Linked DNA regions of Homo sapiens. The protein of the gene in region 2 interacts with the protein of the main gene of each other region in a pairwise test. Each region holds a gene or a part of one and is shown on either strand. Other genes may lie near its edges.

Region 1 (16,643 bases), on a different chromosome or scaffold from region 2:
TGGTATCCCCCCTCCAGGCTTTGCTGTTTTTGATTGTTGAAGACTAGAGTCACATGTTCATTTAGTGACTTTTCCAAACTATTTTTGCAAAGACTATTCTTTGTCGAGTACAGTCACTGAAGTCTTTTTCTTTAGCTTGTGTTCAACCAGTGTTTTGACAGAGATTTTATCAAGAGAAAAACCAACACAAAACACTTCTCCCAGTCTTTGTGGATTGACTCTGTGTTGGGGTACTTTTTAAACGCTGTTTACAACTCTTTCTGAGTTGACTGCCTTCACTGAGCCTAGAGATTAGACAGAGTTCTTGAGAAAGCTTATGGTCTTAACAGGTCTTTTCTGAGCACACACCCAGTCCTGCGCATGCATGTGACTTCCTGGATTCCCCAAAATATATAGGTGCTTTTTTTTTTTTCAAATTTATGTATTTTTTTCTGAGACAGAGCCTCACTCCAGTTGCCCAGGCTAGAGTGCAGTGGCATGATCTTAGCTCACTGCAACCCTTGCCTACCAGGTTCAAGCAATTCTTGTGCTTCAGCCTTCCAAGTAGGTGGAATTACAGGTATGTGCCACCACACCTGGCTAATTTTTGTACTTTTAGTAGAGACAGGGTTTTACCATGTTAGCCATGCTTGTCTCGAACTCCTGGCCTCAAGCAATCCACCCACCTCGGCCTCCCAAAGTGCTGGGATTACAGGCGAGAGTGATCACACCCAGCCTTTCTTAATTTTTTAGTAGAGATAGGGTCTTGCCATGTTATACTGGCTGGTCCTGAACTCCTGGCCTCATACAATCCTCCTGCCTTGGCCTCTCAAAGTGCTCAGATTATAGGTATGAGCCACCACACCCGGGCCAAGGGTGCTTTTGAATGCCTCTATTTCCCCACAAGAAACTCCTCAGCTTTTCTTCCTAGGCTTTAGATGGCCAACTGTATGGGTAACCACAGTACAAAGCCCTGGACCAGAGTAGAGTCCTGAGGGGAGAGGGCTGCCACCAGCCTGGTTGTTGAATTGGGAAGGGGTCAGGAGTATAGGGCAAATCAAAGGACGCTGGTGGCCATCATGTCATACCTCTTCGTGTCAAGTGGGGAAATCACAGTTCTGCTCAAGGTGCCAGGGGCCAGGCTAGGTTAACTTCCTTGCTGACATCCAGCCTTGGCTCCTTGAGTCAGAGTACCCCGTCACCCTCCCTACCTGTGATGACACAGATGCCTCCTAGGGGTAAGCACAGGGTTCCATGGACATCACTTCCCCAGAATAAGGGCACCAGCGGAGAACTGTTCTTAAAGTACCTGGCTGCTGATAGTGAGGGCAGATGGCTTCCAGCTCAGTATCACTACAGCAGGGGGTACCACAGGCTGCAGATCCAGGGTGGGTCACAGCAGGAGCATCTCTCACACGGGCCTGGGCTGCAGGGGTCCAGGGGGATGGTCCTGGAACTGAGAGCTCCATCTCTGCCTCCTCACGGCGAGTTCTGAGGCTGGGCATGACAAGGACCTGAAAACCGGCAAGAACACAGGTGAGTCTACAGACAGGCTAGCTCTAGGGATTCATCCTCCCATCAGGCCGGGGTCTCTTCCTCCACCCCTGCAGCCCAAGACCTGAAGAGGGCCTGGTGCTGCCAGGTCTCAGGGGCTGATGCTGTGTTTCCTGATCTTGGACCTAAAAAGAGGGAGTCAGCCATGGAGACACAGACTCAAAAGCCAGGGCCACAGTACAAAGGGGCAAGATGCTGACCCTAAGGTAAAGTGGGTCATGGTGCCCAGACCTGCCATGATAGGAGGGCAGCCCCCACAGGGTCTGTGTCCTGCTGTGGGGCCTGTGTACTGCTGTGGGGCCTGTACCCTGCTGTGGGCCTGTGTCCTGCTGTGGGTCTGTATCCTGCTGTTGGGCTTGTGTCCTGCTGTTGGGCCTGTGTCCTGCTGTTGGGCCTGTGTCCTACTGTGGGCCTGTACCCTACTGTGGGCCATACCCTGCTGTGGGCCCGTGTCCTGCTGTGGGGCCCGTACCCTGCTGTGGGCCATACCCTTCTGTGGGCCTGTACCCTGCTGTGGGCCTGTGTCCTGCTGTGGGCCTGTGTCCTGCTGTGGGGCTGTGTCCTGCTGTGGGCCTGTATCCTGCTGTTGGGCCTGTGTCCTGCTGTTGGGCTTGTGTCCTGCTGTGGGGCCTGTGTCCTGCTGTGGGGCCTGTACCCTGCTGTGGGCCATACCCTTCTGTGGGCCTGTACCCTGCTGTGGGCCTGTGTCCTGCTGTGGGCCTGTGTCCTGCTGTGGGGCTGTGTCCTGCTGTGGGCCTGTATCCTGCTGTTGGGCCTGTGTCCTGCTGTTGGGCCTGTGTCCTGCTGTGGGCCTGTACCCTACTGTGGGCCATACCCTGCTGTGGGCCTGTGTCCTGCTGTGGGGCCTGTACCCTGCTGTGGGCCATACCCTTCTGTGGGCCTGTACCCTGCTGTGGGCCTGTGTCCTGCTGTGGGCCTGTGTCCTGCTGTTGGGCTTGTGTCCTGCTGTTGGGCTTGTGTCCTGCTGTGGGGCCTGTGTCCTGCTGTGGGGCCTGTACCCTGCTGTGGGGCCTGTACCCTGCTGCGGGCCTGTACCCTGCTGCGGGCCTGTATCCTGCTGTGGGCCTGTGTCCTGTTGTGGGGCCTGTATCCTGCTGTGGGCCTGTATCCTGCTGTGGGCCTGTATCCTGCTGTGACCACTCTTCTCACTCCTTGTTGCTGACATTCACAATGCTCTGAAGCTGGGCAGGCCAGACCCACCTAGAGTGGGAGAACAGCAGCTCCAAAGGGTGAACAGCCAGGGGCAGCCTGTGCTGCAGCCCCACATGTCATCATTATGTGTCAACGCCTACCAAATCCTAGTGGTCAGTTCTATCTGAGTTGCACCATCCTGGCAGCACCCACAGCAGGTGTTCCCATCTTTACTTGCACCAGCTACTCCCTCCTAGCCTCTCATTCCCCATTTCATGTTGGCACCCCAGTGTGCACTTCTGCACTGCCACCAACTTCCTTGGTGATTATGTCCAGTCTTGAGGCATCAACACCCTTGTTAAGATTCACAAACTTGGGCTCATCTCCAGTCCTAACTACTCCCTGTGAGCAGGAGAGAGGACACTCCCACGTGGCGGCATGACGGGCTCCTCACATGTTACTGATTCCCCCACCCCTCACTGTGTAAATGCACCATACCCTGCCCGGGTGCCCACTGGGAGCACTGACATACCTCAGCCCTTCACTCACATTGTACTGACATTGACTCTTCTGTCCTTCATGAGCACCAGCTGAGAATGAGGGTGTGGTCAAGGGGATCTGCAAAGGGGATGTGAAGAAAGGTGGCAGAAGGATGGTGCAGGGAGTCAACGTGATGGTACGTGTCACCCATAGGCCATGTGGGGAAGAAAGAAGGGCTGGGTGGTGCTCCTGGACTCAGATCACCATCAAGGAGAAGGCAAGGAGATATGAACAGAGCTCACAGGGATGGTTACTATGGACCAATGATAAGGGGCCTTGGCTGCCAGATGAAGGTGAAACACTGGCCACATTTCTGTGTCAGGAGAGACAAAACTAATATCTCAAGATTAACTTGGCAGGGTGCTCAGAGGAATGGTGGGAGATGAGATTCAAAGCAGGTACAGCACTAAGGTGCCTACCACGTGGCAGCAGAAATGGAGGAGACATGGGCGATGGGGGTGACAAGGCCCTCTGTGACTGCATCTGCCTGCCCTTACAGTGCAGATGCCCAGTTTCCTCGAGGGAAACCTCTCCCCATCCAAGTGGTGATGTAATAATCTGCAATATTTATTTAGTTCATTTTATTTAAAAATACTTTAAATTCTCATTGTTTCTGAATAGGGGCATAGTCACCTCAAAATTTAAAAGGTAAAAAGGATTTATGGTGAAAAATTCCCCAAACATCCACACAGTTTCCCTTGTTTCTAGTGTACCGTTCCAGATTAATCTAGGTTTACACAGCAAATATATAAACATATGTTTGCCTTTTAATGATAAATTACACCCAACTATGCTATGGCTTCACACCTTATTTTTCTCACTTCATTATGTGTGGGATCTTGCTTACCAGGACACAGAATAAATGCCCCCTCTCACCCAGGTCCATATCCTAATCCCTGGAACTTGTGCTTATGTTACACTACATACCAAAAAGGACTTTGCAAAGGGAATTAAGGTTATGGACGTGAATTACCCTGGTGGACCCAATCTAATCAAATGAGCCCTTAAAAGCCTGAGAAAGATCTGAGGGCCACATGGAAGGACCTCGGAGAGCTAAGGATCACTCAGGCTGGCAGCCAGCACTTCTGAGGACCAACCTCAAGAAAAACAGATTCGGCCAACAGCCTGAACAAGCTTGGAAGTGGAGTCTCCTGGCTAGAGGCTAAGCCTGCTCTTTAGGAGTCACACAACTGGAAGAGCCAGCCACCACCCTCCCATAGCAAGCAGCCACAGGATGGGCCCTGGCCGATCCCTCAGCACCTTCCCCCTTGGGGAAGAACTGGCCCAAACTCTCCTCCCTTCCCAGAGTACCTCCTCCACACGCAGAGCGACTCCACTACTGACTGGGCCTCCCAGGCAGGACATCTGAGGCTGAGCGAAACCCCCTTTCTCCCCCAGCTCTGCTCAGTGCATCTCTGACTTCTCATGGAACACCAGGAACCACGAACCCACCCTTGTCTCCCATGCGCTGGGAACCACCCCATCGCACTGCTGCCCCATGTAGGGAAAAGAAAGAAAGATCAGACTGTTACTGTGTCTGTGTAGAAAAGGAAGACATAAGAAATTCCATTTTGACCTGTACCTTGAACAATTGCTTTGCTGAGATGCTGTTAATTTGTAACTTTGCCCCAGCCACTTTGCCACAACTTTGAGCTCACAAAAACATGTGTTGTATGGAATCAAGGTTTAAGGGATCTAGGGCTGTGCAGGATGTGCCTTGTTAACAAAATGTTTACAAGCAGATGCTTGGTAAAAGTCATCGCCATTCTCCAGTCTCAATAAACCAGGGGCACAATGCTCTGCGATAAGCCACAGGGACTTCTGCCTTGGAAAGCCGGGTATTGTCCAAGATTTGTCCCCATGTGATAGTCTGAAATATGGCCTCATGGGATGAGAAAGACCTGACCGTCCCCCAGCCCAACGCCCGTAAAGGGTCTGTGTTGAGGTGGATTGGTAAAAGAGAAAAGCCTCTTGCAGTTGAGATAGAGGAAGGCCACTCTCTCCTGCCTGCCCCTGGGAACTGAATGTCTCGGTATAAAACCCGATTGTACATTTGTTCAATTCTGAGACAGGAGAAAAACTGCCCTATGGTGAGAGGTGAGACATGTTGGCAGCAATGCTGCCTTGTTATTCTTTACTCCACTGAGATGTTTGGGTGGAGAGAAACAAATCTGGCCTACGTGCCCATCCAGGCATAGTACCTCCCCTTAAACTTAATTATGGCACAGATTCTTTTGCTCACATGCTTTTTTTTGCTGACCTTCTCCCTATTATCACCCTGCTCTCCTACTGCATTCCTCTTGCTGAGATAATGAAAATAATAATCAATAAAAACTAAGAGAACTCAGAGACCGGTGCCGGTGCAGGTCCTTAGTGTGCCGAGTGCCGGTCTCCTGGGCCCACTGTTGTTTCTCTACACTTTGTCTTATTTCTTTTCTCAGTCTCTCGTCCCACCTGATGAGATATCCCACAGGTGTGGAAGGGCAGGCCACCCCTTCACCCCGTCGCTCCGCCCGAGCTCGAATGGTGGCACCGACAGGCGGGAACGCCACCAGCCTGTGGGCGGAGTCCTGGCTCGGCCCCTCGCGGCGACCTTACCCCGGGGTCTCCCCGGAGACCCCCTACCGGAGGCAGCCCCCAGAGGCTCTGACCTCCAGCCCAGGCCGAGCTGCCCCCGCCCCGCCCCCCCCGCGCTCCCACAACCCCCCGCGCGGCTCCGCCCCCGCCCGGGGTCCCCAGCTCGCTGCCCGCCCCGTCTGAGCCCTGAGAGGCCCCTGGGCCCCCCAACCACGGGGGCATCAGGGACAACCAGACGCAGGGTCCCAGGCGTGGAGCTTCGCGGAACTAACCTCAACGGGTCGCGCTTGGAAAGGAGGCAGCACCGTGGCACGAAGACGTCTCAGCCAACGCCGGCTGACCCCCGGAAGTCCCGCCCCGAATTCCGGCCCGCCGCTCGTTCTATCTGGGGCAGCGTAGCCTCTCTAGATGGCGGGAGGCCGGGGCGACTCTGTGGTTCAGCCCCAGACCTGGTCCCACTAGCCCTGAGGCCAGAGACCCTTCTGTTCCCCTTTTTTTCAGAGTTGACCCGTGCACTGAACAAGGCGGCAACTGAAGAAAAGGGGACACTAATAGAAATGCAGAGATAATGAGATATACTCGTGTAGTGGGAGATTTTAATATACAGGCCCCCAGAATCGGAACAGACGGTAGTTTGATAAAAACCTAAGGATACGTTTTTTGGAAGAACTGAATCATTCAATCAGTAAGTGATTAGATAGATAAATGGAAGAATTCAGATTCCTTCAGTAGATAACATGTTTTCGTGAGATTGTGCATGGATCGTTTCTAATACGGAAATGAATTGTACACTTGGACATAAAGAATACAAATAAGGCTGGGTGCGGTGGCCCACGCCTGTAATTCCAGCACTTGGGAGGCCGAGGCGGGCGGATGGCTTGAGGCTAGGAGTTTGAGACCAGCCTGGGCAATATAGGGAGACTCCATCTCTACAAAAAATACAAAAGTTAGCCAGGTGTGATGGTGTGCGCCTGTAGTCCCAGCTACTCAGGAGGCTGAGGTGGGCGGATTGCTTGAGCCGGGGAATGTGCGGCTGCAGTGAGCCGGGATCACATGTTGCACTGATGAGAGAGTGAGACCCTGTCTCAAAAAAAAGAAACAAACAACAACAACCAAAAAAAACCTCACAAATATTTTGACGTTCATTTTGCAGGCAGATTAAACTATCAAAATCAGGAATACATAATAAAAAATGCATGACAAACTCTATTGGAATTTAAGAAACACTGTCTAGATAACCCCCCCCCCTTTTTTTTTTAGTTCAGGCTGAGGTGCTCTCAGTTGGAGATGAGGAACTTATTGGAAGCTGGAGTAAAGGTCACTCTTGCTATGCTTTAGCAAAGAGATTGGTGACATTTTGGCCCTACCCTAGAGATCTGTGGAACTTTGAGCTTGAGAGAGATGATTTAGGGCATCTGGCAGAAGAAATTTCTAAGCAGCAAAGCATTCAAGATGTGACATACCTTTTTCTGAAAGTGTACAGTCATATGCATTCACAAAGAGATGGCCTGAAATTGGAACTTATGTTTATTTTTTTATTTATTTTTAATTTTTTTATTTCCATAGGTTTTTAAATTTTTATTTCCATAGGTGGTGGTGTTTGGTTACATGAGTAAGTTCTTTAGTGGTGATTTGTGAGATTTTGGTGCACCCGTCACCTGGGCGGTATGCCTTGAACCCAATTTGTAGTCTTTTATCCTTCACGCCCTTCCTGCACTTTCCCCCTGAGTCCCAGTCCCCAAAGTCCATTGTATCCTTCTTATGCATTTGCATCCTCATAGCTTAGCTACCTCTCACGAGTGAGGACATACGATGTTTGGTTTTCCATTCCTGAGTTACTTCACTGAGAATAATAGTCTCCAATCCCATCCAGGTTGCTGTGAATGCCATTAATTCACTCCTTTTTATGGCTGAGTAGTATTCCATCATATATATATGTATGATGGAATACTACTCTCTATATATGTATAGATATATACATATATACACACATATATACACACACACATATATATATAAATATATATATGCTACAGTTTGTTTATCCACTCGTTGATTGATGGGCATTTGGGCTGCTTCCACATTTTTGCAGTTGTGAATTGTGCTGCCATAAACGTGCATATACAAGTATCTTTTTCGTATAATGACTTCTTTTCCTCTGGGTAGATACCCAGTAGTGGGATTGCTGGACGAAATGGTATTTCTTGGTAGTTCTACTTTTAGTTCTTTAAGGATTCTCCACACTGTTTTCCATAGTGGTTGTACTAGTTTACATTCCCACAAGCAGTGTGGAAGTATTCCCTTTTCACCACATCCACGCCAACATCTATTATTTTTTGATTTTTGATTATGGCCATTCTTGTGGGAGTAAGGTGGTATTGTTTTGTGGTTTTGATTTGCATTTCCCTGATCATTAGTGATGTTGAGCATTTTTTCATGTTTGTTGGCCATTTGTATATCTTGTTTTGAGAATTGTCTGTTCATGTCCTTAGTGCACCCCCCACTTTTTTTTTTTTTTTTTTTTGAGATGGAGTTTCACTCTTGTTGCCCAGGTTGGAGTGCAATGGTGTGATCTTGGCTCACTGCAACCTCTGCCTCCTGAGTTCAAGCAATTCTCCTGCCTCAGCCTCCTGAGTAGTTGGGATTACAGGCATGCGCCACCATGCCGGGCTAATTTTGTATTTTTAGTAGAGATGGGGTTTCTCCATGTTGATCAGGCTGGTCTCAAACTCCCAACTTCAGGTGATCCACCAGCCTCGGCCTCCCAAAGTGCTGGGATTACAGGAGTGAGCCACCACGCCCGGCTGTTAGCCCCCTTTTTGATGGGATTATTTTTTCGTGCTAATTTGTTTGAGTTCCTTGTAGATTCTGCATATTAGTCCTTTGTTGGATGTATAGATTGTGAAGATTTTCTCTCACTCTGTGGGTTGTCTGTTTACTTTGCTGACTCTTCCTTTTGCTGTGCAAAAGGTCTTTAGTTAAGTCCCACCTATTTATCTTTGTTTTTGTTGCATTTGCTTTTGGGTTCTTGGTCATGAAATCTTCGCCTAGGCCAATGTCTAGAAGGGTTTTTCTGATGTTATCTTGTAGAATTTTTATATTTTCAGGTCATAGATTTAAGTCCTTGATCCATCTTGAGTTGATTTTTATAACGTGAAAGATGAGGATCCAGGATTATTCTCCTACATGTGGCTTGCCAACTATCCCAGGGCTATTTGTTGAATAGGGTGTTCTTTCCCCACTTTATGTTTTTGTATGCTTTGTTGAAGGTTAGTCGGCTGTAAGTATTTGAGTTTATTTCTGGGTTCTCTATTCTGTTCCATTGGTCTATGTGCCTATTTTTATAGCAGTACCATGCTGTTCTGGTGACTATGGCCTTATAGTGTAGTTTGTTTCATGTGCATCCATGTGAAGAGACCACCAAACAGGTTTTGTGTGAGCATTATTTCACCTGGGTGCAGGTGGGCTGAGTCTGAAATGAGAGTCAGTGAAGGGAGATAGGGGTGGGGCCATTTTATAAGATTTGGGTAGGTAAAAGAAAATTACAGTCAAAGGGGGTTGTTCTCTGGTGGGCAGGAGTGGGGGTCACAAGGTACTCAGTGGGGGAGCTTTTGAGCCAGGATGAGCCAGGAGAAGGAATTTCACAAGACAATGTCATCAGTTAAGGCAGGAACAGGCCATTTTCACTTCTTTTGTGGTGGAATCTCATCAGTTAAGGCAGGAACCAGCCATCTGGATGTGTACGTGCAGGTCACAGGGGATATGATAGCTTAGCTTGGGCTCAGAGGCCTGACATTCTGGTCTTCTTATATTAATAAGAAAAATAAAGTGAAATAGTGGTAAAGTGTTGGGATGGTGAAAATTTTTGGGGGTGGTATAGAGAGATAATGGGTGATGTTTTTCAGGGCTGCTTTGAGCGGGATTAGGGGCAGCGTGGGAACCTAGAATGGGAGAGATTAAGCTGAAGGAAGATTTTGTGGTAAGGGATGATATTGTGGGGTTATTAGAAGAAACATTTATCATGTAGAATTATTGGTGATGGCCTGGATATGGTTTTATATGAATTGAAAAAGTAAATGGAATAAGAGAAGGAGAAAAACAGGTATAAAAGGTCTAAGAATTGGGAGGACCCAGGACATCTAATTAGAGAGTGCCTAAGGAGATTCAGCATAGTCCTGCTAGCAAAGATTATTTATTTACTTCAAGAGTTTAGAGTGGCAGTTTGGGGATAGCGCCAGGAGATATCAGCTGTGATGGCTTGCAGAAACAGTGTAAACCAGCTGTGTAAACAAGAGGAGGGCATGTATGAGTAGTTGAGAATGGTGAATAGGAGTATGACTAGATAGAAGATAGTAGGGATGACAAGTTTTTTTTGGGGCACAGTCTAAGTTGGTCTGCTGTCTGGAATGAGACCGGGGCCTAATAAAAAGGAGCATCTCTACAGGAGCTCAAATGGGCTGTACCTTGTAGCATTCTGAGGACAGGTCTGACTTCTGAGAAGGGAAAGTGGTAAAAGTGTTGTCCAGTCCTTTTTAAGTTGGTGGCTGAGCTTGGTGAGGTGTGTTTTTAAAAGACCTTTAGTCAGTTCTACTTTTCTTGAAGATGGAGGACCATAAGGGATATAAAGGTTTCACTGAATACTAAGAGCCTGAAAAACTGCTTGGCTGATTTGAGTAATAAAGGCTTGTCTGTTATCAGACTGTATAGAGGTGGGAAGGCTAAACTGAGGAATTATGTCTGACAGAAGGGAAGAAATGACTGCGGTGGCCTGCTCAGACTGTGTAGGAAAGGCCTCTACCTATCCAGTGAAACTGTCTACCTAGACTAAGAGGTATTTTAGTTATCTGACTCAGGGCATGTTGAGTAAAGCTAATTTGCCAGTCCTGGATGGGGGCAAATCCTCAAGCTTGATGTGTAGGGAAGGGAGGGGGCCTGAATAATCCCTGAGGAGTAGTAGAATAGCAGATGGAACACTGAGAAGTTATTTCCTTGAGGATAGATTTCCACGATGGAAAGGAAATGAGAGGTTCTAAGAGGTGGGCTAGTGGCTTGTACTATAGCATAGCCTGCCTTTGCTGGTGTGTGGTGATTAGGCCTGGTGGAACTGCCATCAATAAATCAAGTGTGATCAGGGTGAGGAACAGGAAAGAAGGAAATATGGGGAAATGGGGTGAATGTCAAGTGGATCAGAGAGATACAGTTGTGGGGGTCAGGTGTGGTATCAGGAATAATGTGGGAGGCCGGATTGAAGTCCGGGCCAGAAACAATGGTAATTGTGGGACTTAACAAAGAGTGAGTACAGCTGAAGGAGCCAGGGAGCAGAAAGTATATGCATCAGGTATGAGGAAGAAAATAGATTTTGGAAGTTATGAGAAATGTAGAGAGTGAGTTGAGCATAGTTTGTGATTTTAAGGGCCTCTAAAAGTATTCGGGTGGCAGCAGCCACTGCACAGAGACATAATGGCCAGCTTAAAACAGTAAGGTCAAGTTGTTTGGACAAAAAGGCTACAGGACGCGATCCTGGTCCTTGTGTAAGAATTCTGACTGCACAGCCCTGCACTTCGGCTGTGTGTAATGAAAAGGGTTGGGATGAGTCAGGGAGAGCTAGAGTGGGGGCAGTCTCTAAAGCTGTCTTCAAGGAATGGAAAGAGGAGTGGGGAAAGGATTTAGGATCTATGGGGTCAGCTAGGTTTCCTTTTGTGAGTTTATAGAATGGTCTTGTTAGGATGGCAAAACCAGGTATCCAAAGGTGAAAGTATCTAAACATGCCCAGGAAGGAAAAGAGTTGTTGTTTTGTAGAAGGGGTAGGGGTTTGAGAGATTAGTGGGACATGATCGGCAGGGAGAGCACGTGTGTTTTTATGAAGAATTATGCCAAGGTAGGTAACGGATGGAGAAGAAATTTGAGCTTTGGAGGGGGATACCTGATATCCATTGGAGAATAAATGCTGAAGGAGCAGAAGTGTGTCTTGTTGAGAAGATTCACAGGAGGGGCTACAAAGAAGAAGGTCATCAATATATTGAATAAGGTGAGAAGTGGAGGGGTGGAAAGAAAGTAAATCGTGAGAAAGAGCTTGGCTGAAGTAATGAGGGCTGTCCCTGAAACCTTGCAGCAGCACAGCCCAGGTAAGCTGCTGGGACCGATGATGGGTGTCAGGGTCAGTCCAGGTGAAAGCAAAGAGAGGCTTGGATGAGGGGTGCAGGGGAATAGTGAAAAAAACATCTTTAAGATCAAGAATGGAATAGTGAGTTGTGGAGGAAGGTATTGAGGACAAAAGAGTGTATGGGTTGGGCACTGCAGGTGGATAGACAAAACAATTTGGTTGATAAGGCATAGATCCTGAACTAACTTATAAGGCTTGTCTGGTTTTAGGACAGGCAAAATGGAATTGTAAGAGGAGTTTATAGGCTTTAAAAGGCCATGCTGTAGCAGGCGAGTGATAACAGGCTTTAATCCTTTCAAAGCATGGTGTGGGATAGGATATTGGCATTGAGTGGGGTAAGGGTGATTAGGTTTTAATGAGATGGTAAGAGGTGCATGATTGGTCACCAAGGAGGGAGTAGAGATATCTTATACTTGTGGGTTAAGGTGGGGGGATACAAGAGGAGGACACAAAGGAGGCTTTGGATTGGGAAGAAGGGCGGCAATGAGATGTAGCTGTAGTCCAGGAACAGTCAGGGAAGCAGATAATTTAGTTAAAGTGTCTCGGCCTAATAAGGGAACTGGGCAGGTGGAGATAACTAAAAAGGATTGCTTAAAAGAGTATTGTCTAAGTTGGCACCAGAGTTGGGGAGTTTTAAGAGATTTAGAAGCCTGGCCGTCAATACCCACAGCAGTTATGGAGGCAAGGGAAACAGGCCCTTGAAAAGAAGGTAATGTGGACTGGGTAGCCTCTGTATTGATTAAGAAGGGGACGGACTTACCCTCCACTGTGAGAGTTACCTAGAGTGTCTGTGATGGTCCTGTAGGCTTCCCAGGCAATCAGGCAGTGTCAGTCTTCAGGAGCTAAGCCAAGGAGATCTGGGAAGGAGTCAGTCAGAGAGCCTTGGGCCAGAGTTCCAGGGGCTCTGGGAGTGGCTGCCAGGTGAGTTGAACAGTCTGATTTCCAGTGGGGTCCCGCACAGATGGGACATGGCTTAGGAGGAATCCTGGGCTGTGGGCATTCATTGGCCCAGTGGCCAGATTTCTGGCACCTGTAGCAAGCTCCTGGGGGAGGAGGTCCTGGAGGAACTCCTGGCAGCTGTGGTTCAGGCGTTTGGAGTTCTTGTGTGCTGGAGATGTGGCTGGGATTTGTCTCACATTGGAGGCAAGTAATTGCAACTCAGAAATACATTGCTACTTGGCTGCCTCTACTCTATTATTGTACACCTTGAAGGTGAGGTTAATTAAGTCCTGTTGTGGGGTTTGAGGGCTGGAATTTAATTTTTGGAGTTTTATTTAATGTCAGGAGAGGATTGGGTAATAAAATGTGTATTGAGAATAAGACAGCCTTTTGACTTTTTAGGGTCTAGGGCTGTAAAGCGTCTCAGGTTTGCTGCCGAACGAGCCATGAACTGGGCTGGGTTTTTCATATTTGATGAAAGAGCCTAAACGCTCACTGATTTGGGAGAGGTCTGATAAAGAAAAAGGAGCATTAACCTTGACTATGCCTTTAGCTTCAGCCACCTTTTTAAGAGGAAATTGCTGGGCAGGTGGGGAGGGCTACTCACAGAATGAAACTGTAAACCGGACTGGGTGTGAGGAGGGTAGGTGATAAAAAGATTATAGGGTGGAGGAGTGGAGGCTGAGGAATAATTGGGACCTAGCTCGGCCTGGCGAGGAGCAGCCTGGGGAGGAGGGGAGAGGTCAGATGGGTCTGTAGAAAAGGCAGATTAGAAAGACTCAGTGACGCTTGGGGTTGGGACTGAGGGGACAGGTGGGAGGGAAAGAAGGAAGATTTGGGATGAGTTGCACTGGGCACAAAGACTAGGGAGGAACTGATGTGTAAAAGAATGCCTGGACATCAGGCACCTCAGACCGTTTGCCCATTTTACAACAAGAATTATTTAGATCTTGCAGGATGGAAACAATTGAAAGGTGCCATTTTCTGGCTATTTGGAACCACTGTCGAGTTTGTACTGGGGTCAAGCGGCATTGCAGAAGAAAATAAGACATTTAGGTTTAGGTCAGGCAAGAGTTGAAGAGGTTTTATGTTCTTAAGAACATAGGCTAAGGGAGAAGATGGAGGAATGGAGGGTGGAAGGTTGCCTATAGTGAAGGAGGCAAGTTTAAAGAAAAGGGAGAGTAGAGACACGGAGGGAAGTGGTTTGGGGGTTCTTACCCTCCAGAAAAGCAGGAAAGGGGTTGGGGTCCAGAGATACGAGGTTGGGGCATGGAAATAAGGGATCAGGGTGCAGAGATATAAGAGGTTGGGGCATGGAAATAAGGGATCAGGGCACAGAGATGTGAGGTTGGGGTACTTGCCCCTCCCCCAGAAAAGCAGGACTTGCCACTAAGGGTGAAGGAGAAGGAGTTGGGGGTTTATTGCCCCCCAGAAAGGCAGAGAAGGGGTAGAGACATGGAGAGAAGGGGTTGGGGTACTTGCCCCTCCCCTAGAAAAGCAGGACTTGCCACTAAGGGTGAAGGACCAAGGCAGGCGTCCCTGCGTGGCCTGACACCTCTGAAATGTGGGTGAATAATCAGAGAGGAATTCCTGCAATGATTAAACACCAAGGGAAGGCTGCCTTCCCAGTCCATGACTGGTGCCAGAGTTTTGGGTCCACAGATAAAACATGTCTCCTTTGTCTCTACCAGAAGATGAAAGGAATTGAAATTAAGAGAAGGGAGAGATTGAAGTGTGGCGCCAAGATTGAAAGGAGAAAGAGGTTGAGAGATAGTGAGGGAGGTGGGAGAAGAGAGTAAAAAGAGGCTACTTACCAGATTTGAAATTGGTGAGATGTTTCTGGGGCTGGTCGGTCTGAGGACCTGAGGTCGTAGGTGGATCTTTCTCATGGAGCAAAGAACAGGAGGACAGGGGATTGATCTCCCAAGGGAGGTCCCCCGATCTGAGTCACGGCATCAAATTTCATGCACGTCCAAGTGAAGAGACCACCAAACAGGCTTTGTGTGAGCAACATGGCTGTTTATTTCACCTGGGTGCAGGTGGGCTGAGTCCGAAAAGAGTCAGTGAAGGGAGATAGGGGTGGGGCCGTTTTATAATATTTGGGTAGTTAAAGGAAAATTACAGTCAAAGGGGGTTGTTCTCTGGTGGGCAGGAGTGGGGGGTCACAAGGTACTCAGTGGGGGAGCTTTTGAGCCAGGATGAGCCAGGAGAAGGAATTTCACAAGACAATGTCATCAGTTAAGGCAGGAACAGGCCATTTTCACTTCTTTTGTGGTGGAATGTCATCAGTTAAGGCAGGAACCGGCCATCTGGATGTGTACGTGCAGGTCACAGGGGATATGATGGCTTAGCTTGGGCTCAGAGGCCTGACAGTTTGAAATCAGGTACCGTGATCCCTCCAGGTTTGTTCTTTTTGCTTAGTCTTGTTTTGGCTATGCAGGCTCATTTTTGGTTCCATATGAATTTTAGGATTTTTTTTCTAGTTCTGTGAAGAATGATGGTGGTATTTTGATGGGAATTGCATTGAATTTATAGATCACTTTTGGCAGTATGGTCATTTTCTCAATATTGATTCTACCCATCCATGAGCATGGGATGTGTTTCCATTTGTTTGTGTCATCTATGATTTCTTTTAGCAGTGTTTTGTAGTTTTCCTTGTAGAGGTCTTTCACCTCCTTGGTTAGGAATATTCTGAAGTATTTCATTTTTTGCAGCTATTGTAAAAGGGGTTGAGCTCTTGATTTGATTCTCAGCTTGGTTGCTGTTGGTGTATAGCAGAGCTACTGATTTGTGTACATTAACTTTGTATCCTGAAATTTGCTAATTCACTTATCATTTATAGGAGCTTTTTGGAGGTGTCTTTAGGGTTTTCTAGGTATATGATCCTATCATCAACAAACAGTGACAGCTTGACTTCCTCTTTACTGGTTTGGATGCCCTTTGTTTTTTCTCTTTTCTAATTATTCTGGCTAGGACTTCCAGCACTATGTTGAATAGAAGTGGTGAGAGTGGGCATCTTTGTCTTGTTCCAGTTCTCAGAAGGAATGCTTTCAACTTTTACTCATTCAGTATTATGTTGGCTGTGGGTTTATCATAGATAGCTTTTATTACATTGAGGTATGTCCCTTGTATGCCAATTTTGCTGAAGGTTTTAATCATAAAGGGATGCTGGATTTTGTAGGGTGCAGCCCTATGGGGCTTAGTGGGTGTTCTCCCCATATGTGGAGATGGGAGATTGTAATAAATAAAGACACAAGACAAAGAGATAAAGAGAAAGCAGTTCAGCCCAGGACCACTACCCTCAAGATGTGGAGACTGGTAGTGGCCCCGAATGGCTGGGCACACTGATATTTATTGCATACAATACAAGGGGCGCAGGATAAGGAGGGTGAATATTCTAAGTGATTGACAAGGTGAAGCAAGTCACATGATCATAGGACACGGGGCTCTTCCCTTTTACGTAGCCAAAGCAGAGAGAGAAGGCAGCATACGTCAACATTTTCTTCTATGCACTTATAAGAAAGATCAAAAACTTTAAGACTTTCAGTATTTCTTCTACCGCTATCTACTACAAACTTCAAAGAGGAATCAGGAGTATGGGAGGAACACGAAAGTGGACAAGGAGCGTGAACATTGAAGCACAGCACCACGGGGGTGGGGGGAGGCGGTTTAGGCCTCCGGATGACTGTGGGCAGCCCTGGATAATATCCAGCCTTCCACAAGAAGCTGGCAGAGCAGA
Region 2 (13,845 bases):
ATATTTGCATAAATTCCATAAGAATTTGTTTTCTTTTATAACAGGACACAATTGGAGACATTGGTTATTTTATAGAGGCTTTGAGTGAAATGGTATATTTTCAGATATGACCAGAATGCTTTGAGGAATTGAGATTGACTTTATAGAACTGACAAAAAGCCTCTTGGACAGACTGACCTGGTTACCTTGTCTATGCAGTTTCTATAAAAAGTTAATGATCTGTGGTAAGTAAAGAATGTCACTTTCTGATAGGCCCAGGAACCCCCAAGTTATTTTGAGACCTCAAGAAAAGAGGAATTCACCAAATTCATGCAGGTATCTACAGGCACAGATAAATTACTGGCTTGCATAGCCTTGAGATGCTTTTGGAAGTCTAATCTGAGATTCCTTATGAAAAAAAGTCTCAGCAAAGCCAATTTAAAAAGACTCTCTATGGCCAACCACTATTCTTGCCATACTTTATGCAAATAATCAGGCCAGGTATAAGACTAAAACTTATTTAGCAAATACATTTGTCCTGCTATGATTTGTCTTTCATAAAAATGGGAGCCTGGAGAGAGAAAAATTTGTGTTTCAAAAGAAAACTTCAATACAACTGTTATTAAATTCTAGGCTTGTTCATTATTTTTGAGTTTTATTATTTGCCTATAATTTGGACTGAATCCTAAATTCTTTCCTGGCTATAAATATCAAAAGTAATGATTTCAAGATTTTCTTCCATTTTGGAATGTTAGAAATTAAAACTGTGCTTTTCTTCAAGCCCTGCAAACTGAAACTAGACAAGTTAAGTGAACTTTTGGAGAAGTCACAGCAACTTATATATAAACAACTTTTGTGCCCGTTGATGCATGGACTACACGAAAGGGTCACACGAATACTGGATTTGTACTGAAATTCAGAGAAATCTGTGAGATTGTCACTGCAGTTAGATGATTCAGAGACTCTAGAAAAATGAGTCTATAGGCTGGGCGTGGTGGCTCACGCCTGTAATCCCAGCACTTTGGGAGGCTGAAGTGGGTGGATCACGAGGTCAGGAGATCGAGACCATCCTGGCTAACACGGTGAAACCCCGTCTCTATTAAAAAATACAAAAAATTAGCTGGGTGTGGTGGCGGGAGCCTGTAGTCCCAGCTACTCGGGAGGTTGAGGCAGGAGAATGGCGTGAACCTGGGAGGCGGAACTTGCAGTGAGCTGAGATCGCGCCACTGCACTCCAGCCTGGGCAACAGAGCCAGACTCTGTCTCAAAAAAAAAAAAAAAAAAAAAAAAAAGAAAAAGAAAAATGAGTCTATAGACTGCTGTAGACATTAGAGGTGAGCCAACATGCAACTGAAAGTGTTAGTGATCATGGCCCAAAGAATTGCTCTAATTGAGGAGGCAGTTGTGTATCCTCAGTTGGATTCCAGGATTATACTTTGTTGTTGTTGTTGTTGCTGTAATTAGTCCTTGGTCCTTTTCTGATTTGACTTCACCCCCTTTTCCATGGGAGATGACTTCCTAGGAATGAGCCTTCATAGTGATGTAAGATCAGATGAAACATAGCCACAAAGTCATGTATTTAACAGTAATTTCTCTGAAAGATATAGAAGAATGTTGGAGGTGGGCAGGTGTGGTGGCACAGGCCTGTAATTTCACATTTTGAAAGGCCAAGGTGGAAGGATCGCTTGAAGCCAGGAGTTCAAGACTAGCCTGAGCAACAAAATGAGACCACATCTCTACAAAAAATAAACTAAAATAAATTAGCTGGGTGCAGTGGTGCATGCCTGTAGTCTCAGCTATTCAGGAGGCTGATGTGGGAGGACCTCCTGAGCCCAGGAGTTCCAGGCTGCAGTGAGCTACAATCATGTCACTATACCCTAGCCTGGGTGACAGAGCAAGACCTTGCTTCTTAAAAAAAAAGTGGGAGGCGGGGTTGGGGCAACAGGAAGGCAAAAAGCCTCAGGGATCTCCAGATGACTGCCCTCTAAATAGTTCTTTGCTGGCCTCAAAATCTTTCAAGATGTATAGCGTTTCATAAAACAAGGCATGTCAATTATAACTTCAGGTGTGCAATCAAAATCTAGCTCCTAAAACTAAAGCCTGTTAAGTTTTATTCTGATAATATTTATCTTCCCAGGCACAGAACAAAGGCAAAATGAGATCAATTATTCTTCCACCTATCCCATCTCTTTCTACCTGTCTTCCCCCCTGTAAGGAAATATATAAATACTAAGCCTTCTGCAACCTCTTCAGAGAGAACACACCCACAGAGGTTTTCTGTGATTCATGTTTTCCCAGGGTGCACCCTCAAGCTCTGGCTCAATAAACCTTAACTGGTCAAGACCCTTGCCTCAGTCAATCATTCTGGATGACCACCATGAGTCTTGCACAGGCCTTCACTGATCCCTTTGCTGCCCAGGTGATGTGTACCTAGGTGAATCAGGTCCCCACGAGTCAAACACTCTTCTCCCTTTCTGCCTCCTCTACCTCCCTCTCCTCATTCAGTGCCGTGTGCCCTGGTCTGGCCCCAGCTCCAGGCCATTAGTATTAGCCTAAGAAGGCAAGGCCAGGATGAACAGGCTGAGAAGGAAATCAGAGGCCAACAGGCATGAAAAGAGGCAGATGGGACTGTCATTTCTCAGAGCCACCCACTCTGGGTGTGTTTTATGACTGCTACTGGATTTGGAATCTTTTCCTCTTTGTGGCCATAATGGGAACTCACCCTTCTCCTACTTCCTTCCCATTACACTTTCTATTCATAGGGAACTCCTTTTATGACCAGAGAAAGGCTGTAAAAATAGTTGACAATTGAGTAAAACTGACTTTATAATGACTGGGAACCTGGCTCTGTTTTTTTCCAAAAGAGACTGAGATTCCTCAAAGCTAGCTTTTATGCAGGGCTGTGCAGTTGTGAGTGTAGCATTAGGGAACAGGTACATAAGTGAAGGGTGAGACAGAAAACAAAATGCTGGCTCTTTGTCAAATCCTGAAAGTAGAGGGGGCAAAAATCATTCTGGAAGGTGTATGTCATTCAGGAGACCTTGGAAATCTCAGGGTATCCTCTTCCCAGATGAAGTGGAGGATGAGGTTAAATTATGGAGTTGGGTGTGTGATACTGGGTACATTACTTCTCTGCCTCGTTTTTTTTTTGTTGTTTTTTTGTTTTTTTTGATGGAGTCTCACTCTGTTGCCCAGGCTGGAGTGCAGTGGCACGATCTTGGCTCACTGCAAGCTCTGCCTCCAGGGTTCACGCCATTCTCCTGCCTCAGCCTCCCGAATAGCTGGGACTATAGGTGCCTGCCACCACGCCCGGCTATTTTTTTTGTATTTTTAGTAGAGATGGGGTTTTACGATGTTGGCCAGGATAGTCTTGAACTTCTGACCTTGTGATCCACCTGCCTCAGCCTCCCAGAGTTCTGGGATTACAGTTGTGAGCCACCGTGCCCAGCCTGCCTCATTTTTTTAATCTGTAAAAATGGGGATAACATCCAGGAATTTTTGTGAAGATGTTAACTACATGGAAAGATCTTAGGATAGTTCCTGGCACATACTGAGTTTTAAGTCAGTGCAAACTATTATGATTATGGGAATAGGAAAAGGTGCCACCCTGGACGTGTAGGATGAGGGGGTATTTTCTAGCCAGGGTCCTAGCAGGCCAACCGGAGATGAAGATGGTTAAGCAGAAGCAGCTTAACTTCAGGAGTGGAAGGATTGGGGAGCAGTAGCTCATGCACAAGATTCTGTGAAAATGCCTTTACCTAACAGCAGAAATACCCAGAATGGGTGTGGCTTCTGTCACAATTATTGTCTAAAAATGTGTCGTAGACTCAAATGGCGTTGATGTAAGCCAAGTACAGAAAAGGGCTTCAGGGCTGCCTTGCACATAGCATTCATCTTGTCAAAGGAAAACATTCATCTTGTTAAAGGAAAACATTCATTTTGCTAAAGGAATCCCCACTTGTAGCCCTGGTTATTATTTTTGTCTCAGTACTATTCTTGTTTATAGTTTGTAAAGAGAAAGACTGAAGAAGTGTGAAATACGGAAGTGCATGTATGAATTAACAGGGCAGAATTGGGACTGGTATGCGTAAGTTAAGAGAAAGTGCATATAAATTTATGTGAACATAAAGAGGACTTCTTGTTTTAAGCAGACCTCTTTGTATAAAAAATGTGGGCTGTCTTGAGTGGATGGCAGACTCTATCACAAGAACATTCTAGCAGAGTCACGAGAGAATGGGGAGCATGACTTCTTTCTAAATGGCAAGTTAAGAGTATGTAAGTCGATGAAGAGAGAGGAGATGAAGGAGAAGATGGGTGAGGATGAGAGAAATGGGATAGAGAAAAGAACAGACTGAAAGGAATGTTTACCAAGTGCTCATCAGGTACCAGCCTCTGTGTCTAATACCTTACACATCTTAATTTACTCTTTGACTGTCATTTTCTGATAACAGTAAGAGTCATCTTTGTGCTGCAGATGAGAAAACGCTGTAGGAGGTGAAGTGAGTGGTCCAGGATCATCCAGCCAGTTCATAGCAGAGCTGGTGTGTTTCACCTCAAAGTTTGTGCTCTTGCCTGTGATTCACACAAAACAATGAGATATAGAAAGAAGGCAAATGAAATTTTTGTTGTGGGTGATGTTTATGGAAGTTACCAGTGTTAGGCAGAATAATGGCCTCCCCAAAATGTCCACATCCTTATCCATGGAACCTGTGCATGTTACTTTATTTGGCAAAAAGACTTCACTCTTGAGATGGGGAGGTTATTCTGGATAATCTAGGGTGGCCCAGTGTAATCAGAAGGGTCCTTGTAAGTGAAAGAGTGAGGCAGGAAGGTCAGGGTGAAAATGCTGCAGTCTGAGACTCCACTAACCATTGCTGGCTGTGAACATGCATCAGAAGACAAAATTTCAACTAATGTAGTTATAGATCTGATTGGCTTTTAATTGTGATTCAGGGTTTGGGGCAGCTCTCACTCTACACATACAGTGATAGCTCCCCCTGGGCAACATAATAACAGAGCAATGGGTTTTGTCAAATTGGAACCAGTAGACAGAGCCATAGAAATAAATGGATTGGTTAACATCAGGGTACTTCAGGTTACTCTTTTTGGGGTAAATGTTAAAGCAGAGGGGACTTCCTTATGATGTTGACTCAGGGAGACTGGAATCTTCTGTTTTCAGAAAACATTGGTCTGTTTTGAGATCTGCTTCCTTAAAATTCCAGTTGGAGTATGCAGCATTTAGTGTGAGTGGCTCTAATTTGGAGTCTTTAGACTCTCACTTAAGTGAGAGTGTGACCAAAGCTTAAAGCATTAGCATTACTCTCAGTTATCATCATTTTTGGCTTCCATTGTTTATAGGTTATGATATCCTCCTGATCACACATTTCTTTGAGTTTATGTAGTTCCAGCCAAATAGAGACCATTTGATATTTGATGGATGGCAGCACGCAAACACTTAAAACTTTTAGAGATTACAGCACACCAGGGAGACCAGTAGTATGACTATGAGGAAGATAATGTTAAGAGTTTGGAGTATGCACCTTTGGTAAGATGCAAACCAACTGAAATAGAATAGATAAAAGAATGAACCAGATGAGTGTAGCCATTTTAACCAAGTAGCATGTTTGTTAATTTTTGCAACTGAGACTCTATAATACCCGATATATTTATCCATGTGCAACAAGAAGCATCATAAACTACACAGACTCCTCTCTGATCAGCCAATAGGGAGCAATTTTATTATCTAGCATTGCATGCCTGGGTTAAATTAAAACAGACAGTGAGAACAAGTGAGTCTAGGAGTCTGACTCTAAAAGAGACCATAGTACATTTGAACAAAGAGTTGTGTTAAAGATGCTGTTACTGTCAGCCATTGGGTGGACTAAAGGATCTCATACGTAAAAATTTGGGGTTGACACGATAGATTAGACACTCCGTTAATCTATCATTCTCTGTATTTTCTCAAATATAACATCCCAATCAAAGCCTTGGTAATATAACCAATGTTTTAAACTATATCCCATTATAAAGACAGCAGATTCTCACTGAACTTGTGCAAATAACTGAATTACCATAAACATATGAATACTCATGAATAGTTGCCCAGTTCTGTGGCAGTCAGGTAGGGAGCAAAAGTAAATGTTATAATTTTTGTTCACAAAAGTCTGCTTTACCAAATTGCAGTAAGGTATAGATAGCTTAAAAGATAAAGAAATTCATAAATCTGAAAAAGAAAACACTTAAAGAATTGGCAATTTTTCAAATAAAAAATCTTAAAAACGGGCTGGGCGCGGTGGCTCACACCTGTAATCCCAGAACTTTGGGAGGCTGAGGCAGGCGGACCATGAAGTCAGGAGATTGAGACCACAGTGAAACCCCGTCTCTACTAAAAATACAAAAAATTAGCCGGGCGTTGTGGCAGGCGCCTGTAGTCCCAGCTACTCAGGAGGCTGAGGCAGGAGAATGGTGTGAACCCAGGAGGCGGAGCTTGCAGTGAGTTGAGATCGTGCCACTGCACTCCAGCCTGGGCGACAGAGCGAGATTCCATCTCAAAAAAAAAAAAAAAAAAATCTTAAAAACATTATCCTCATTATTATTTAGTTCAATGAAATTCATGTTTTTTTCCTTCTGTGTTTTGGTGGGCAACTTCACAAAGGTATCAGCCTGTTTGCAAGTTCATAGACAGTCCAGTGGCGTGATCTTAAAGTTATCAGGAACTTGTGTTCAAGAGTACTCGTCAGAGTATTTTCCATAAATCTTGAAGAAGAAGCAATTTTGAATGGTAGCTGATTGCAAATGCTTTGAGGAAGAATAAAAACAACTGTCTGTGAATGACAAAGATTGAAAATGACTATGGTTAAAACTCTGAGGAGAGCTCATTATGATAAAGACACAGCCACATAGAAATTTAGTTACTTCTGTGGCATATGACATTATGACTGATAACATATTCGATTTCTAGGAAACTCATAATTTTTGGAACACTCATATCGGTAACATAACCGTAAATATAACTTAGAGAAGGTTTAGCACCACTTATCAATTGACAATGCTTTCCATGTAATTTAACATATCAAGTAAGGCTGGGCGTGGTGGCTTATGCCTGTAATCCCAGCACTTTGGGAGGCCGAGGCGGGTGGATCACAAGGTCATGAGATCGAGACCAGCCTGACCAACATGGTGAAACCCCGTCTCTACTAAAAATAGAAAAATTAGCTGGGCGTGGTGGCAGGTGCCTGTAATCCCAGCTACTCGGGAGGCTGAGGCAGGAGAATTGCTTGAACCTGGGAAGCAGAGGTTGCAGTGAGCCGAGATTGTGCCACTGCACTCCAGCCTGGCGACGGAGCGAGACTCCGTCTCAAAAAAAAAAAAAAAAAAAAAAAAAAAAAAAAATATATATATATATATATATATATATAAAATAAGGTGGCTTTTCCACTTAGCTTCTGTTTCTCAACTGGATTACTGAGTTCTTGGTGGAGCCCATTAATGAACAGGGCCAGCAAAATATAGGCTTGTATATGTTGAAAAAGTTTTCTAGGAAATTCTAATACTCCCAGCTAAAGAACCATTGTTTTAGCCTCATGTGCTACCTATTAGAACAGGAGTTCTCCATCCTGGTTACATGTTAGTAGCATCTGGGAAGGCTTAAAAATTACCAATGCCTGGGTCCCACTCCAGATAGTAGGTAAGAATTTATGGATGGGGCTTGAGCATCATTTAAAAAAACATTTCTCAGTGATTCCAATGTGTGGCTATATTTCCCATCAGATTTCTCTGATTTCTTGTGGCATTCACTTTTTTCTATTTTGGTATTATGATTATTTTTCATATCTTATCTCCTGTCTTAGGCTGTATGTTCTCTGGGGTAGGGATCTTGCCTTTTTCATTTCTGTATCTTTCATGAACACATGAATTGGTCATCAGGAAAAGGTTCTCAACCACACGTAGGCTGTGTCCTGAATCTCAGGTTCACACATTAATGCTAGAGTCGTTGTTCTCCATGAGGTCAGAGGTTGCTTGCTTTGAAGGGTATGTGGGCAACTCCACAGTTCAGATAGTGGATGGGAGATTACCCTGTTTCTAGGCATAGCATTGGAACTAAGAATTCTATGTGTATATGGGGTAGATGCGCAGGGAAGTGTAGGAAGACAGTTCTAATTAGGATGGAGGAATTATACTAGGGAGTAGAGGGAATGGAAGTGAGAAGAATTAGTAAAGAGAAGAAATGTGAACTTATCAAATAGGCCAGAGTAGGCCTCTGAAGATTCTTGAGTAAGTGAGTGAACTAGATTTTAGGAAGGTAATGAGACAATCATATGCAAGGAAGATTTCAAATACTAGAGACAAGAAGTCAAGCAGGACTTCGAGCAGTTGTTGAGGTCTATGGGAATGGATAAAATGACACAAGTGAGAGATGTTAAGAAAGGATCAAAAGACTTTCATAGTGTATTGAATCTGGGAAACAAATGAGCAGAGGCTGGGAATAATCACATCTAAGAGACAGTGGGGTACAGGGAGCATGCAGACCAGGGAAGAAGAGACCTGCAGGAATTAGTGCTGAGAAGCAGGAGTTTATTGGGAGGAGGAGGAGATCCATTCCCGGGATACAGGTCTCTCTCCCAAGCATGGCGGTCAGCCCTGCAGGAAACAGGACAAGAGGAAAGGCCATCATACCTGCCAGTCTTCTTGAAATGCAGAAACTACACCAGAGCTACTATATCAGAGCCACCCTGGCCAGTACTCCAATCATGATGCTGACAGTGGCTCTAGCTGAGAGGCCAGGAGAACTTCCTTGTACTAAAGCATCTGTCATGGAAAGAAAAGAAGAGAAGGAATGAAGTTGATGCCATTTTACAGTGGGGTACCCCAGGAACCAGCTCCTAGCATGAAGTAGTCTCTACTTGTTTTTTCAAGGAATACATTATTTTTGTGGGAAGGTTGCTGGGACGTGATTAGCCAACTATATTCTTGCAGGATTTTTTCCTCTCACCATGTTTCTAGGTTGACGATCAGTCTTCGGTCAATTTCATCCTGGCATTTCTTTACTCAGATATTTTGAAGGCTTTGTGATGTGAAAAAGCTGATTGCTATTTTATGTGTCATTAGAACTTTCCACCTTTTCATGGTTGCATCTTTTTCTCAGTGTCTTAGTTGTGGCAGGTCTCTATGGCAGGGAGCTGATTGACAGAAGGCCCAGGTCAGTGCATTCCAAATTGACCACCTCCTTTGCACAGAGACCTCTCTTCCCAGGGGCTCCCAGCAGGGGTATGGAAGCAAGCCCAGTTTTGTGAGACTCTGTTTAACTCTGATGGGTGACTAGTTGGAGGACGCCCCATCAGCCTTGCCTAAACTCACTTAGAACTGCACTGCTATCTAAAACTTCTTTTTCTTTCTCCTTCACAGGAATCAAATCTGCATCGTGGTCTGAGGGCTCTCCCAGGCTCCTCTCACACCTGCCCCATTTTCCCTCACAGGTGTTTTTCCTAGTAAATTATCTTGCGTGTCTAATCTCATCTTGGTTGCATCTCAGTGGGTTAAAAACTAACATACCAGGTTTGATTCTTTGCACTTAGCTTTTTTTCTCTCTTTCACGTGTAACCAGTAACCATGTCCTCGTGTTTCCTGTGTTGCCTTTTTTTTATATGTGTGTGTATTTACCTAAGATACCTTTTACACACACACACACACACACACACAACCTTTTGCATCTGTTTCTTTATTTCTATTGGAACCATTTACTTTTGGCCCTCACCAGTCAACTCAGGCTGATGATTAATGCTATGTTAGCTACTGTTGAGGGGCAGCTCCTATGGGCCAGGCCCTGTGCTAAATACTTTACCTCATTTGATTTATACAATAACTCTCTTGGGTAGAACATTATTTCCATTTTACAGATGAAACGACAGAGGCTTAGAGTGGTGAAAAAACTTTCCTGATGTCATATGGCTGGTGAGAAGTAGACTTGAGATTTGATTCTAGGACTACTCAGCTTCAAGCTAATGATAACAGTAGTAATATATCAGCTAAAATTTATGAAACATTTCCTCTGTGTGGGGCATTTTGCTGAAGGTTTCATTGATGATTACATAAAACTCTTAAAACAATGCTATGAAGCAAACACTGTTACTGCAATTTTCAGTTGAGGAATCAGAGGCTCAGAGAAGTTAAGAATCTTGTGCAAGAAATTTATAACTGTTAAGTCTTACATTAAAAAAGAAGAAACATCTCAAATCAACAACCTAATTTGCAACTTCATGGTACAGGAGAAAAACAAACTAAACCCAAATATATTGAATGAAGGAAGTAATAAGGATTAGAGTGGATATAAATGAAATGGAGAATGGACAAACAATAGAGGAAATCAATGAAACCAAAAGTTGGTTCTTCAAAATAAGATCAACAAAATTGCCAACCATTAACTAGACTGACTAAGAAAAAAAGAGACAAGATGGAAATTACTAAAATCAGAAATGAAAATGGACTCCCAGCATGGTGGCTTACACCTTCAATCCCAGCACTTTGGGAAGGCAAATTGGGAGGATTGCTTGAGGCCTGGAGTTTGAAACCAGCTGGGGCAACATAGGGAGACCCTGTCTCTACAAAATTAAAACAAAAATTCAGCTGGGCATGATGGTATGCACCTGTAGTTTCAGCTACCTGGGAAGCTGAGTTGGGAGGATTGCTTGAGCCCAGGAGGTTGAGGCTGCAGTGAGTTTTGATCGCACCTCTGCACTCCAGCCTGGGCTGACCTAAGGAGTGAGACTCGTCTTTCTCTCTCTCTCAAAAAAAAAAAAAAAACAAACAAAAAAAAAACGAAAGAAAGAAAAGAAAATGGAGATATTATATATCAATTCTAGAGAAATATTGTTTACAAAAGTACTATGAATAATTGTATGCCAATAAATTGGATAGCCTAGATGAAATGGACAAATTCCAAGAAACACACACAAAAAATCTGAATAGACCTATAATTAGTAGGAAGATTGAATAAAAATTTCATTTGACAAAATTCAACATTCTTTCTTAATAAAAACATGCTAAGTATGAATGGAAGGAAACTATCTCAATATAATAAAGGCAGTATGTGAAAAGCCCAAGGCTAACATCATACTCAATAGAGAAAGACTGAAAGCTTTCCCCCTATGATCAGGAACAAGACAAGGATGCCTGCTTTTGCCACGTCTATTTAACATAGTATTACAAGTCCTAGCCAGAGAAATTAGGCAAGAAAAAAAGAAGACTTTCAGATTGGAAAGAAGAAGTAAAATTATCTGTCTGTTCACAGACAACTTGAACTTCTTTGTAGAAAACTCTAAGGATGAAAAAAACCTGTTAGAATTTATTAATAAATTCAGTAATGTTGCAGGATACAAAATCAGCATGCAAACATCAGTTGCATTTCTATACACTAACAATGAACAATCTAAAAAGGAAATTAAGAAAAAAATTTTAATTCACATTAACATCAAAAAGAATAAAATACTTAGGCATAAGTTTAACCAAGGAGGTGAAAGGATTGTATTCTGAAAACTAGAAAACATTGCTGAAGGAAATTAAATACGACCTCAAAAAATGGGAAGACATTTTGTTTTCATGGATTGGAAGACACGGTATTGTTAGGAGGATAATACCACCCAAAGTGAGCTATGGATTCAACACAATTTCTATCAGAATTCCAATGACATTTTTTTGCAGAAATAGAAAAATCTATCCTAAAGTTCATATGGAATTTCAGGACTCAAAATAGCCAACCAATCATGAAAAAAGGAACCTTGAAAAAAAAATGCTGAATCCTGATTTCAGCATTTACTACAAAGCCACAGTAATCAATACAATGCAGTACTTGCGTAAAGGAAGACAGAAACCAGCGGAATAGAACAGAAAGCCCAGAAAGGAATGCTTGCATATATGGCCAAATGATATTTGATAAGGATGCCAATACCACTCAATGGGGAAAGTGCAGTCTTTTCAGCAAATGATTTTGGGAAAGCTGGAAATCCATGCAGAAAGATGAGCTGAACCTTTACCTGACACCATATACAAAAAACTAACCCACAGTAGATCAAAGACCAAATGTAAGAGTAAAAACTATAAAACTCTCAGAAGAAAACACAGGGAAAAAAACTCCATGACATTGGATTTCACAGTGGTTTCTTGGTTATAACAACAAAAGCATAGGCAACAAAAGAAAAAATGGGTAAGTTGGACTTCATGAAAATCAATAACTTTTATATATCAAAGAACATTGTCGAGGAAGTGAAAAGGCAACCTTGAAGTGGGAAAAATATTTGTAAATCATGTATGATAAGGGATCAATTTTCAGAGTATATGAAGAACTACTACAAATCCACAACAGCAAAAATCCAAAAACCCAACTAAAAAAGGACAAAAGACTGAAATAGAGATTTCTCCAAGGAAGATATACAAATGGCCAATGAGCACATGCAAAGATGCTCAACATCACTGATACTTAGAGATATGCAAATCAGAACCCCAATGATAGAATACCTCAAACACATTAGGATGGCTTTGATTAAAAAAAAACCACACACACACAAACAACAAGTGTTTTTAAGGAAGTGGAAAAATTGGAGCTCTAGTGCATTGCTGATGGAAGTGTGAAATGTTATAGCCACTGTGGAAAACAGTATGGCTGTTTCTCAAACAATTAAACAAAGAATTACCATTGGATCCAGCAATTCCACTTCTGGACATATATGCAAGAGAATTGGAAGGGATTTGAACAGATATTTGTACACTGATGTTCACAGCAGCATTAGTCACACAATAGCCAAAAGGTGGAAACAACTGCAAAGTCCATTGAAAGATAAGTGGATAGAAAAGTGAGGTGTATCCATACAATGGAATGTTCTTCAATCTTAACAAGGAAGAAAATTCTGATACATGGTGCAAAATGGATGAACCTTAAAAACATTATGTTAAGTGAAACAAGCCAGACACAAAAGGCCACCTATTATATAATTCCATTTATATAAGGTTGTTAGAATAATCAATTACATAGAGACAGAAAGTAGAATGGAGGTTGCCAGGGGTTAGAGGGAGAAGGAGTGAGAGTTACTCTTTATTGGGCAGAGAAGTTTATTTAATATGGTAAGATGAAAAAGTTCTGGAAATGGATGGTGGTGATGGTTACATAACACTAAATTGCACGCATAGAAATAGTTAATGGTGGCTGGGAGTGGTGGCTCATGCCTGTAATCCCAGCACTTTGAGAAGCCAAGGCGGGTGGATCACCTGAGTTCGGGAGTTCGAGACCAGCCTGATCAACATGGAGAAACCCCATCTCTACTAAAAATACAAAATTAGCTGGGCGTGTTGGCACATGCCTGTAATCCAGCTACTTGGGAGGCTGAGGCAGGAGAATTGCTTGAACCCAGGAGGCGGAGGGTGAGCCGAGATAGTGCCATTGCACTCCAGCCTGGGCAACTGGCACTACCCCTTCCCTCTCATGCAGAGACCCTGTGGCTGAATCTCCCTGTGTCTCCAAGTGTGCATCACTCACTGTCCTCTGTGTTGTATCCACAGCCTCATGCAGCCCGTGACTTCAGAGCTAGGACACTGCTCAGGAGTCTTCCCGGAGGCTCCCTGTCTTCCCATTTTTGTGCAGCCTGACTGGGGGGAGGCTTGGCTTCAACTGGCAACTTGATTTAGCCAGATTTGGGATAGGCCACCTGAGCACCTTTTCCATACACCTGGGTCCCACCCCAGGTGGAGTCAGGGCAGGGCCTGTCACCAGGGAGCTGGGAGCAGAGATGGGAGCAGTCTGAGCTGCTCCTCCGTCATCCAAGGGGCTCCTCCTCCCATTTGGGGAACGTTGTGGGCTTGTTTCAAAGCCTTGGATGTT

The links.
Region 1: the proteins of CEACAM8 (region 2) and ZNF16 interact in a two-hybrid assay, tested with the Homo sapiens proteins (one study listed by IntAct).

What each region holds. Positions count from the first base shown.
Region 1 is NC_000008.11:144,944,723-144,961,365, forward strand, and holds the start of ZNF16 (zinc finger protein 16), read right to left. Parts: upstream 6,159-16,643; 5' UTR 6,075-6,158; intron 5,902-6,074; exon of another isoform or gene 5,680-5,901; intron 3,304-5,679; exon of another isoform or gene 3,218-3,303; intron 1,494-3,217; 5' UTR 1,485-1,493; coding exon 1,289-1,484; exon of another isoform or gene 1,191-1,288; intron 1-1,190. UniProt on the Homo sapiens protein: Acts as a transcriptional activator. Promotes cell proliferation by facilitating the cell cycle phase transition from the S to G2/M phase.
Region 2 is NC_000019.10:42,574,552-42,588,396, forward strand, and holds the end of CEACAM8 (cell adhesion molecule CEACAM8 precursor), read right to left. Parts: coding exon of another isoform or gene 13,564-13,845; exon of another isoform or gene 13,365-13,563; intron 9,158-13,364; coding exon of another isoform or gene 9,128-9,157; exon of another isoform or gene 8,971-9,127; intron 8,787-8,970; coding exon 8,695-8,786; 3' UTR 8,655-8,694; intron 6,803-8,654; 3' UTR 5,692-6,802; downstream 1-5,691. UniProt on the Homo sapiens protein: Cell surface glycoprotein that plays a role in cell adhesion in a calcium-independent manner. Mediates heterophilic cell adhesion with other carcinoembryonic antigen-related cell adhesion molecules, such as CEACAM6.